3 linked regions of the Homo sapiens genome follow. The protein of the gene in region 2 purifies or fractionates together with the protein of the main gene of each other region. This does not show direct contact. Each region holds a gene or a part of one and is shown on either strand. Other genes may lie near its edges. The genes, in order: FIRRM, P2RY2 and MARCHF6.

The links.
Region 1: the proteins of P2RY2 (region 2) and FIRRM purify together in Homo sapiens (affinity purification with mass spectrometry; one large-scale study listed by BioGRID and IntAct). This does not show direct contact.
Region 3: the proteins of P2RY2 (region 2) and MARCHF6 purify together in Homo sapiens (affinity purification with mass spectrometry; one large-scale study listed by BioGRID and IntAct). This does not show direct contact.

Annotation. Positions count from the first base shown.
Region 1 is NC_000001.11:169,829,400-169,833,125, reverse strand, and holds part of FIRRM (FIGNL1-interacting regulator of recombination and mitosis), read right to left. Parts: coding exon 3,677-3,726; intron 2,868-3,676; coding exon 2,785-2,867; intron 2,431-2,784; coding exon 2,379-2,430; intron 710-2,378; coding exon 620-709; intron 1-619. UniProt on the Homo sapiens protein: Regulates PLK1 kinase activity at kinetochores and promotes faithful chromosome segregation in prometaphase by bridging kinase and phosphatase activities.
Region 2 is NC_000011.10:73,216,781-73,220,380, reverse strand, and holds the start of P2RY2 (P2Y purinoceptor 2), read right to left. Parts: upstream 2,101-3,600; 5' UTR 1,949-2,100; intron 1,820-1,948; exon of another isoform or gene 1,725-1,819; intron 1-1,724. UniProt on the Homo sapiens protein: Receptor for ATP and UTP coupled to G-proteins that activate a phosphatidylinositol-calcium second messenger system. The affinity range is UTP = ATP > ATP-gamma-S >> 2-methylthio-ATP = ADP.
Region 3 is NC_000005.10:10,433,560-10,437,285, forward strand, and holds part of MARCHF6 (E3 ubiquitin-protein ligase MARCHF6), read left to right. Parts: intron 1-34; coding exon 35-125; 3' UTR 126-3,726. UniProt on the Homo sapiens protein: Endoplasmic reticulum membrane-associated E3 ubiquitin ligase that plays a critical role in mitigating endoplasmic reticulum stress, the regulation of cholesterol and lipid homeostasis, and ferroptosis.

The sequences.
Region 1 (3,726 bases), on a different chromosome or scaffold from region 2:
AATAAAAGGGGCAGGGGATATAGAACCATTTCATATCATGTATCTCAAATATATATGAAAAATAAGGGGAAAGATCTATTTCAGGAAGACAGAATTAGAATAATTATCTATAACTCAAAGCAAGGACATCAAAATCTATACCCAGCAACAAGCACAGCAATCAACGTCAAAAATTTATGCTTAGATCACACCAGTATTTAAATTTAAAATAAATGGAGGCAAGGCCAGGCAGAGTGGCTCACACCTGCAATCTCAGCACTTTGGAAGGCAGAGATGGATCACTTGAGCCCAGGAGTTTGAGACCAGCCTAGGCAACATAGTGAGACCCAGTCTCTACAAGTAATTTTTTTAAAAATTAGCCAGGCGTAGTGGTGTGTGCCTGTAGTCCCAGCTACTCAGGAGGCTGAGGTGGGAGGATTGCTTGAGCCCAGGAAGTCGAGGCTGCAGTGAGCTGTGATCGAGCCACTGTAAAACCAGCCTGGGTGACAGAGCGAGACTCTGTCTCAAAAAAAATAATAAGATAAATTTTTAAAAATGGAAAAAAAAAGGCTATCAAAGGAGTCTGAATCCAACTCTGAGCAGCTTCACAGACAGTGACAAAGATGATATCCTTCCTTGCCTGATGGGGTGGTGCCATGAAGAAAAAGAGACGCTTCAACAGTATTGATAGGTTGATGAGTTGATAACATTCTCCAGGGCATGACTTTATCTGGAAAAAGACATGAGAGAGAGAGGAGAGACTGACTAATTTAGAATCAGAATTTTTACAAGAAGAGAATATGCCAAAATATTAATAGCAGCTCTTTCTAGGGGAAAAGATTGTAGGTAATATTGACTTTTAATTTGGGGCTTTTCTTATCTTCAATGAATCTAAATTTAGAATGAGATTGAACTTCTGACATATTTAACACTGTAATTTCTATTTCTAATTATCATTTTGATGATAACTGGGTATGTCAGTCCTCCTACTCAAAGACAATTCATGGAACTTTTTAAGATCTAACTACAATAGTAGAGAGGTAGATAAAACTCTACAAGACAGAAGCTTCATTAAAAGATGTTACAGGGGCTGAGTGTGGTGGTTCACAACTGTAATCCCAGCACTTTGGGAGGCCAAGGTGGGAGGACTGCTTGAGCCCGGGAGTTTGAAACTAGCCTGGGCAACACAGCAAGAACTCCATATCCACAAAAAGTTTTAAAAATCAGCTGGGCATAGTGGCGCATGCCTGTAGTCCCAGCTACTCAGCAGGGTGAGGGAGGAGGACCATTTGCACCCAGAAGTTTGAGGCTGTAGTGAACTATGATTGCACACCACTGCATTCCAGCCTGGGTGACAGAATGAGACCCTGTCTCTAAGAAAAAAACCACCACTAACAAAAAAATTTTATAAATTCAATTTTATCAATTCCTATCATAATATAGTATCATTCCATCCTGGAATCAATTTTATCATAATGAACTAGAAGAAATCCATTCCTACAACATAATGCACTAAGAAAGCTTTTATTTAAAGGAAACTTCAGACATAAAACACATAACATAAAAATCACTCTTTATCTGCTTTGTGAAAGATATGTTAAGGATTTAGTAAAGTGTGTAAGTGATAATCCAGACCATCAGCCATGGAGACATAGATGTCAGCTGTTCAGGTTATTACACACCTCACTGGATCTGATCTACAAAATCCTTTAAAGGTAAACCAAGAAATATATGATACAATAAGACTATTAGAAAACAAAAGATGTATGGCCCACATAAGATCTTAAAGGCCAGGGAAAAAAATATGTAACAAATAGGTCATAATCATCTTATATGGAACACATAAAACACCTCAGAATTTAAAAGCAAAAAATGTTAATGTTAAGATGATGAAATCATTATAAAATAATTTTCTGTCTGTACCCATTCATAAAACATGACTTCTTTTGCCAAAAGTATCTATCAATGTCAAACTCAAGTTCCTCTCAAATCATCTTGACTTAAAAAAAAAATACAACAAAATCAAGAGTCGACTTGTCTAAGGCATATTAGAGAGACAGAAGAGAGAAACCTCTTGGCCATCAATTATAAGTCGCTCTTATTTTCTACTTTGCATTCAATTTTAAATGTAATTTCAATTAACCCAGTCTTTCCTTCCCAGAACAATTACTGAAATTACATAAAATCCTGAGAATATGAGAAAACATTCCCAGTTTCACACTAACGGTTTTTTAGTACATCCTTCTTAAAAGCATCAGCATTAATACAAGACAAAGACTGTCAAAACAATCTTGTTACTGTGATATTTCTCCCGCCGATATTCACATTCTTAAAGATTATCATATCCCCAAAGGAAGTGCATAGAAAGTGGGTGTTTTAGGCCTTGTAATTCTACGCACCAGATGAGCCACTATGGTGACATGGTGTGCACACAGTTCAGCAGTCCCATATCTGCAATATAAAAGAGAAGACAACTATGTTTATACAATTACTCAGAAACATAAGGAGATGAACTTGCATAAAGCACTAAATATTCTGATGAGGACATTAAAAACTGCCATTATTTCCATGACCAAATAATATCACAATATACAAAACTCCCTAAACAGTACTCATCTATTGGCTTGAACCAAAGAAAGAACTTGTTTCCTAATTTAATGCTGTAATATGAAATCAAAGCGTTTTGGGAATTATTTTTAAAGGATTATTGAAACAGTTTTTCTATAAGCTTACAATTATAAAATTATCTACTGTCAGTCACTACTAATAACCAATCCAAAGAACAAAAAAGCAAATATGTTGTACCGAGCAAGGAAGCACCATGCATCCATAGCTAACAAAGAGGTGATCATATTAGCACTAAGTACAGCATTCAGCAGAGCAGCATCCTAATCAAAAACAGAAAAATTAATTTATTTAAATACTAAAGTTCACAATAAGCAATAATATTATATTTCTCAAAATAAAACAAGAAAGCACTATCAGAATCCAAATAACAGATCCTCAATGGGGGAGTTCTACTTTCTAGTATCTGAAAGGACACTGCCATTCCCTCAATATTTATTGAGCACCTACTATACATTAAGTACTGTGCTGTGCTATGGAGAGTTCAACATGATTTTAAATGTAATAACTCAGTCACTAGGATCCACAAAGATTCTCTAAGTAGCCTGAAATATTCAAAACAACATAAATAACATATATGCTTATATTCCTCTTTCTGCCTTTATTCACATACAACATTTAATAGGTGCTAGATATTGTGTAATATCTGAAATGCTACTGATCTTTAAATTTCAGATATTACAAGTATCGAATTCCTAGAATTTCTTAACCTCTTTTCAAATCAAATTCTATCCTTTTTAAAATCTATATTATGTCTGAGATCTATAAGAGACCTGATACTACAAGCTATTTACTTTTCTTTTGAAACTTACTTAAGTACTACATATTTTTCCTCTTCTCACATTGTCTTTGCATACCTCCCCACCCAAAATGTTTTCTCAAATATTTTAGCCAAATATTAGATCTAAATAATACAGGAATCTGGGATTACCATTTTCTAGGACACAACTAAGTTTCACTCAAAAGGAATATACTAAGTATTCCCACATTTTCTTCTGTATATGAATCACAATTTCAATGAAGAGAAAGCAAAAGTGTAACCTTAGCTTAGCACAGTAAGTAATATGCTTACCAGTTCAGCAAACAGTGAGGGATGAAAGGAAGTAATAAATGTACACAGAT
Region 2 (3,600 bases):
TCCATTCTCCATCCTGCAGCCAGAGAGCGCTTTCTGAAATGCCGCTCTGACCATGAAACACCTCTGCTCATAAATTTCCATGGCTCCCTATTGCCTTCAGGATAAAATCTCTAGGTCTTTAGCCTGGGCACTCTAGGTCCTACAGTGTCCCAGATCACACTGTTCTGGCAAACTGTGCCACCCACTTTGATAACCAGATTCTGGTTTGCCCTTCTTTGTAGTGACATGGAGCTCCCCTGCAGCCGGGCCTTTACTGGAGAAGCTGGTGCCAGAGACAGGGGATGGGCGCCACTGCTGCTCTCTCAGTTCAGCTCAGCCCTGTGCAGGGTGCTGGCAACACAGAAATAATAAGACCCAGTTTCTGCCCTCCAGGAGCCCCTAGACCTGGGAAGAGGAAAGGAGGAGACAGACATAGATCATGACGGTTCAGGTGGGACCAGGGCTGTCAGCCCCAGGCCTGTAGGGGCCTAGAAGAGGCTCCAACCCAGCTGTAGGGATCAAGGAAGGCTTTCCAGAGGAGAGGACATCTGAGCTGGGTCCCAAGTCTGGGTAGTTCTCCAGTTGAGGAAGGTGAGAGTAGGAGGGCTTATCAGAGAGGGAGTGTAGAATATGCAACAGGCCAGGGGCAAGAAATGAGAGACTCCAGGCAGCTGCTGCAAGGTAAAGAGTCAGGCGGGAGAGGTGGCTGGAAAGGCTGGCAGGCCCCAGTTATCAAATACCTTAAGTCCCAGGCTACAGGGTTCAGGCTTGGTCCTGTGGAAGGCTTGTGCCCTAGGGAGGGGCACAGTTGGGATTCTGGTTCTGGGAGGCTCCTTCCAGGGACTGACTTCCCATCCCCAAGCTGTGAGCCTGCCCATGGGGGGACACTGGTGCTGAACATGACACACTCATCAGCTCCTCAACAGCCCTCAAATTCCTTATCATTAGTCCCTTCTTACAGACGAGGCCACTGAGGCTCAGAGAAAGGACGGCTTGCCCAGGCCACACAGTGGCCAAGACAGGATTGGAACATAGATCTCTGAGTCTCCAGAGCTCTCTTGTGGACCTGTCTGCTCAGAGAATCTTCTTCCTTCCACTTCCACCCACAGGTAATAAACTTGCCTGGGTCTCCACCCAGATCCTCAAAACTCATAATTATTTCAGCTTAGATCCAAAACAAACCAGGCAGATCAGGCTGTGGTCCTGGGAAGCTGGGGATGCCATGCTGAGAGGAACAGCAGCCATGGACCCCACAAATCCCGAGCTGGCAATTCTGGTCTCCAGCAGTCCCCAACCCTTGGGCTGCGCTCCTGGAGGACCCCAAGAGGGCCACTGGCAGCCTTCGGGTTGGGGGGTGGGGTATCGCCTTTCTCCTGACTGACCCTTTCTACCGCACCATTTGCCAGATTAAAAGCCCGGGGACAGAGGCTTAACTGTCCTTTCTGGCCACTCCCTCCTCCCCCGCCCACTCCCTGCAACTGCCCCCTCAACATTACCAATGGTAGGTGGCCACCCAGAGTGACCCTGGGGTTAGGACAGTGGTAGGGGGTCTCCAGGGGTTCGCGTCTCTGGGCACCGGCCACCGCCTCACGCCACGGGGACGCTCACATCGGAGCACACACAGACAAGTTCCGCAGGCTTGGCCAGTCGCCCCGAGGGGCGCACACACTCACCCGCTAACACGCAGACCTCCCCAGTACGCTGACGCGCACAGCCTCACTACTGGGGCGCCCGTCCACACTCACCGAGACCGACGCTCCCGTGGAGACAAAGTTCAACCACGGACCCACAGGCGCGTTCAAGCCGTCCAGTTATGCGCTACACGCCGGCTCGCAACTGTGCCCCGGGGCGACAGCCGCTCCACAGCGCCCTCCCCTGCCCCGCGCCCAGTCCGCACCTGCGCCAGTCTGGCCCGCCGCTTCCCCGGGCCTCTCCCAGCGCCTTGTTCCCTCCAGACGCCCCACCCCACCTCTCGCCACTGCGCTGCGCTTCTCCTCTCAGGGTGCCGTCGCCGCCGCTCCCGGGTGCCAGTGCCCGGGTCCCGCCGCAGCCGCAGAGACCCACGTGCCTGGGAGCCCGGCTACCCACCTCCCTGCGCTGTTCCCCAACCCCGAAGCCGGGCCAGGCAGGGGGCGGGGCGGACTTTTGACTGACCCTGGCACCGCCCTCAACCCGCCCGGGTAGACACCGCGCCACCCGCTCCGGGACGCCGCCCAGCGACAAGGCCGCGGGGTCAGCGTGTCTGTACCGGTGCTGCAACGGGAGGGTCGGGCGGCGACGCTCTCACTGCCGGGCCAGAAGGAGGCCTCCCGGCTCCCTCACGCTAGAAGGGAGCTGGTTACCAGAGGTTTTCAGAGACGCCAAAGTTTTGCCAGGTCAGCCCGGTGCCTGCGTGGCCCACTGCGGGACCTTTGCGCCCAGCCACCGCGCCACCCTACCCCTGTCCCGCCCCTGCCCCAGCCCGGCTGGCCAGGAAGGGACCTACTGGGAGATACCTGCTCGGAACCCCAGGCTAAGGACGTACCTCCCTTGCTTGAAAGTGGGGGAAGGGGGTGCCTCTCTCCATTACCGTGGTTAGGAAAGCAGGGTACTCAGGATCCCGCCTCTCCCGTGCTCCCCACTTTCCCTGCCTTAATCTTATCAGCAGCTCCCTGAACTCCCCACTCTGGCCCCTTATCTTGAGCTGCTTTACCTCTCTTCTCTGTCGTCAACCCCACTCTAATGGCCTTCCCTGGTCGGGCTACCGGCTGCATGTCTGACCCGTTCGGAGACTGTGAGCTCCCGAGGGCAGGAACCAGGTCTGCCTTCTTCCTGCTGCTGTCCTAGAGGTCCTGGGAGGTGCTCAATCCTTGAAGGTGTGAATGGATGAATGAATGAGCACCCCGCCTCTCTCTCATTTCTGGTCTAGGAATCAGGAGTGTAGGTTCCTGTCTGGCTTCAGCACTGACTCTGGGAGACCTTGACCCAGTTCCATTCCCTGGCAGGGTCTTCTTTCCTGTGAAATGGAGCCAATCGCTCCGCTGGCTGGACAAGTGCAGAGGAGGCCTCTTCCTGTAGCCAAGGAACTTGCCCCGGGCCTTCGGGGCCTTGGGCCCTCTTGGGCTCCATATCAGCTGACTGGGCCTGGCTGCCAGGAAGGGTGCTGGCTGCAGCCCCACCAGGAGCAGTAGCAGAGTGGACACACAGCCCATAGTGGCTGAGCCGCCTCTGCAGTCCTGCTGGGGCCTTTGCTTGGGAGACACAAAGGCCCCTTGTCTAGCCTCCTGCGCCTATTGTCTAAGCTGGGCCACGCACCTTCCAGGGACCTAAGTATCCTCATAGCCCGAGTTATAGGGCCTAGGCCTTCAGGTTCCAGTGTGGGGAAGACCCTTTGGGCACTGGAACTCCAGCCAACCCTCTCTTTCTCTCCCCTCTTCCAAAACTTCAAACCTTATACTGTCACTGCCATTTAGCCCAGGAGAAACAAGTTTCTTTGACGCCAAGTTGAGGACCCAGGCTCGACCTTAGCCTTCAGCGGGCAAATCTGGTTGGTGGCCTGCCCAGGGCTCTGCCCCTGCTCTGGCCCAATTCCCTTACTTTACAGCTGAGGAAACTGCATTCCTGAGACATACAGCGTTTCAG
Region 3 (3,726 bases), on a different chromosome or scaffold from region 2:
AGAAGAGAGTAACCACCTTGTTTTTGCAACCTAGGTACCTTGTGGGTCAACGACTCGTGAACTACGAACGGAAATCTGGCAAACAAGGCTCATCTCCACCACCTCCACAGTCATCCCAAGAATAAAGTAGTTGTCTCAACAACTTGACCTTCCCCTTTACATGTCCTTTTTTGTGGACTTCTCTCTTTGGAGATTTTTCCCAGTGATCTCTCAGCGTTGTTTTTAAGTTAAATGTATTTGACTTGTGTTCTCAGCATTCAGAGAGCAGCGGTGTAAGATTCTGCTGTTCTCCCTGGATCTTCTGACATTACTGCTGTCTGAGATTTGTATATGTGTAAATACAAGTTCCTTGATACCCTAAAACCTTGGATTAAACAGAATGTGCATTGTACATCTTTAAACAAAATGTATATTAATTTATTAAATCTAGTTGTCACTTTATTTTGGACCTGCTGTGATCTCGACAGGAAACGTGCCACAGAGCAGTAGTGCGCAGGCAAGACTTTTCAGTGACGCCTTGTGGAACGCAGTTCATGATGTCCTAGCAGCTCTCACTAAGGGAACTGTACATTCTTTCTTTCTTGGCTATTCAGACCTTACCAAGAACGTTAAAGGAAACAAGTAGAAATCAGCAGTGGAGTGTCTGTGGTAAGAAAACATGAACTTTATGCTTCACTGTTAGTTGTTTGTGGAAGTTATTTTGTATAACACCAAAGCTGTTGTACATTTCCTACTGCCTGATTTTTTTCATGTGTCTGTGTTTGTAATATTGTATAGTATCTTGTGCTAGGTGAGGAAATTATTTTTAATTTTGATAATTTAATATTCCTAGTGTGATCAGCATTGGGAGTTGGGTTTCAGTGGGGCATGTCTATACTTAGAGAAAAAAAGTCCAAATGAAGATTTTCATGAGTCAGCCCCCCCGCCCGCCCCCACCCCACACCCACATCCTCTCTTTTCCACACACAACTATCTGTTTATTTTTTGTAGCAGTGGCCGAAAGTCCTGCAAGGTCATAAATCTTTCAGAGTGACATCACCAACTGTACTGCATCTTACTGGATTTAGGACTTCTGAGATGCTTGTGAAGTATAGATGTGGTTGTGGTCTTAGATTGACAGCATTAGAGAAGACTGGTTAGAACATCTGGTCTCGCTGGTTAGTGCCTCGTTGGCTGAGGACTAGGTGTGCATTTCTCCTAGCTTTTCATCAGGAAATCCCAAAGTTTCCAAAGCTTTTTGTTTACAGAATAAAACTTCAAATAAAACCAATTCATTATTTGTCCAGAAGGAAGCTTGGCTGAGCTGGCCTTTTAACATAGGAATGTATTTCGTTGGAAACATTCTGAAAAATCTCAGAGAACTGAACCCTTACAAACTTTGTTTTCCCTCATAACCAAAGCTTCAGGTTAGAAGTTTAGAAAAATAGAATGGTTGGGTACATGATCTAAATGTTTAATGCTAAAGGTATATCGTAAGGGTAGTGTTTGTTTTTGAACGATAATTTAGAAGTTCTCATAGAAAGCGTATAACATAGGTCTTCAGAAACTATAAAAGAATTTTCATATAGTATTAAAATCCATAGACTAAAATCTGAGAATTTTTTAACATATGCAAGTCAGCCAAACATAAGCTACCAAAATAAAGAGCAATGTGTTCTGGCTGTTTTATACTTCAACAATTTTTTCCCTAAGTGGTAAGCAATTACTTTAAAACATATTTTTAAAAACATCGGTATCGGGAGCTGCGGTGGCTCCGGCCGGTTGTCCTGGCACACAAGGAGGCGAGGCTATGCGTTCGAGGCCAACCTAGGCAAAATTGGAAAAAAAAAAAAAAATCAGTATCAGAAATAATGCTTGACATAGGATTCAGTGTTATACTCTTTGGCACTTTAGAGCAGCCTTTTCTCTCATTTGAAATAAGGTCTTTGTTAGCCCTACCTTTACTCAGAAATTTAGTCCTACTATAAAAAATTAGGATTTTAAAATATAATGCTGCCTGTCATAGTGTATTTCTAAATTGCTCTCTTTGGGAGAAAAACATTATTATTGAATTGAGCATATAACTATATAACTATATAACTATATATATATATATATATATATATATATATATATATATATATATATATATATATATATTTTTTTTTTTTTTTTTTTTTTTTTTTTTTTGCCCCCGAGACAGAGTCTTACTCTGTTGCCCAGGCTGGAGTGCAGTGGCACGATCCTGGTTCACTGCACCCTCTGCCTCCCAGGTTCAAGCGATTCTCCTGCCTCAGCCTCCCAAGTAGCTGGTACTACAGGTGCGTGCCACCACACCTGGCTTATTTTAGTTATTTTAGTAGAGATAGGGTTTCACCATGTTGGCCAGGCTGGTCTCGGAACTCCTGACTGCAGGTGATCCGTCCTCCTTGGGCTCCCAAAGTGCTGGGATTATAGGTGTGAGCCCCCACGCCTGGCCAACTTGATTATATTAATTTTGGGTTTTTTGTTTTGTTTTGTTTTGTTTTTTAATTTTTCAAAGAATTTGTGGATCTTGGTATAAAGTCATTGGAACATATCTGTTTTAACAGCAAGAGATCCTAGGCAGATACTTCAAAAGGTTAAAAATTCTTAATCCTACAGAATTTTAAATGAATCTTATCAATGTTTTGTAAACAAACAATATGAATGGCCAAAAAATTGCCCTCCATTTTACTGGCAGGTAATTTATATTGTCTTACTTAAGAATTCTCCCCTAGTTTTTCAATTGTACTTTATCGTGTTGTTTTCAATGAGATAAGTATTTTCATAGGGAAAGCATTTTCCAGCATAATATTTGCTTGGGTAGCATCCGGGTTTTAGTATTTAACCAAGAGCCTTTTAAATATTGAAAACCCATAGTTCAGAAAATGTTAGTATTGCTGCCCTTCTTCACATAAATTTTTTTTTAAATTATACTATTATTTTGCTTAATTTTATATTGGGTTAAAACAACCTTCAAGAAGGTTAACTAGGAAAGAAGACCTTTTTGTTTTATTTTTACTATTTATATATAGAAGACAAATCAGCATTTGGTGATAGTTTTACATGACCAGTTATCAAACGGTCATAGTATGAAGTGTGCAGTTGTTCATTATTAGTAAATTATGTTTGATTTTTAAACTATTTAGTACTAATAGTTGAGATGAAAACTGAAGAAAAATGCCAATGTGACGTTTGTGTATAGCTAGCCTTAAAAAACTTCCCATGTTTTTAGGTGACTTTTTTCCCCCTCTTAGTACTCTGGAGAAACAATGAAGATGGGCCATCTCAATTCCAGATGTAAACAAAAAGTAATTTTTATTTCAACATTTAATGTAACTGCTATTATTGTGGATTCTTGTCTTGTGTATTTTCTTTCCCTTATTCAAGTAATATAGAATAACTTTCCTTAAAATGATTTGATCCAAGATACGTCATTTCTGTATTGGCAAAATGCCACTATTAAAGTGTAATTCTTGAATTTAGGTTGAATTGATGACTTTTTAAAACAAAACAAACACTGGACAGTTCTACATTGTATTGCGTTTGCGAATGTGCGTGAACACACGCACACGTGCAGGAGAATGTAGTGCCATAAGAACACTGGCGCTTTTTAAAACTTTCCAAGCTAGCTACTTATTTTCATTTTCAGGGTTGAGTACTCTAAGCTCTCTACTTACTGTGAGAAGTTTTCTACATTGTAAAATTAAAAGATTATATTTAAAA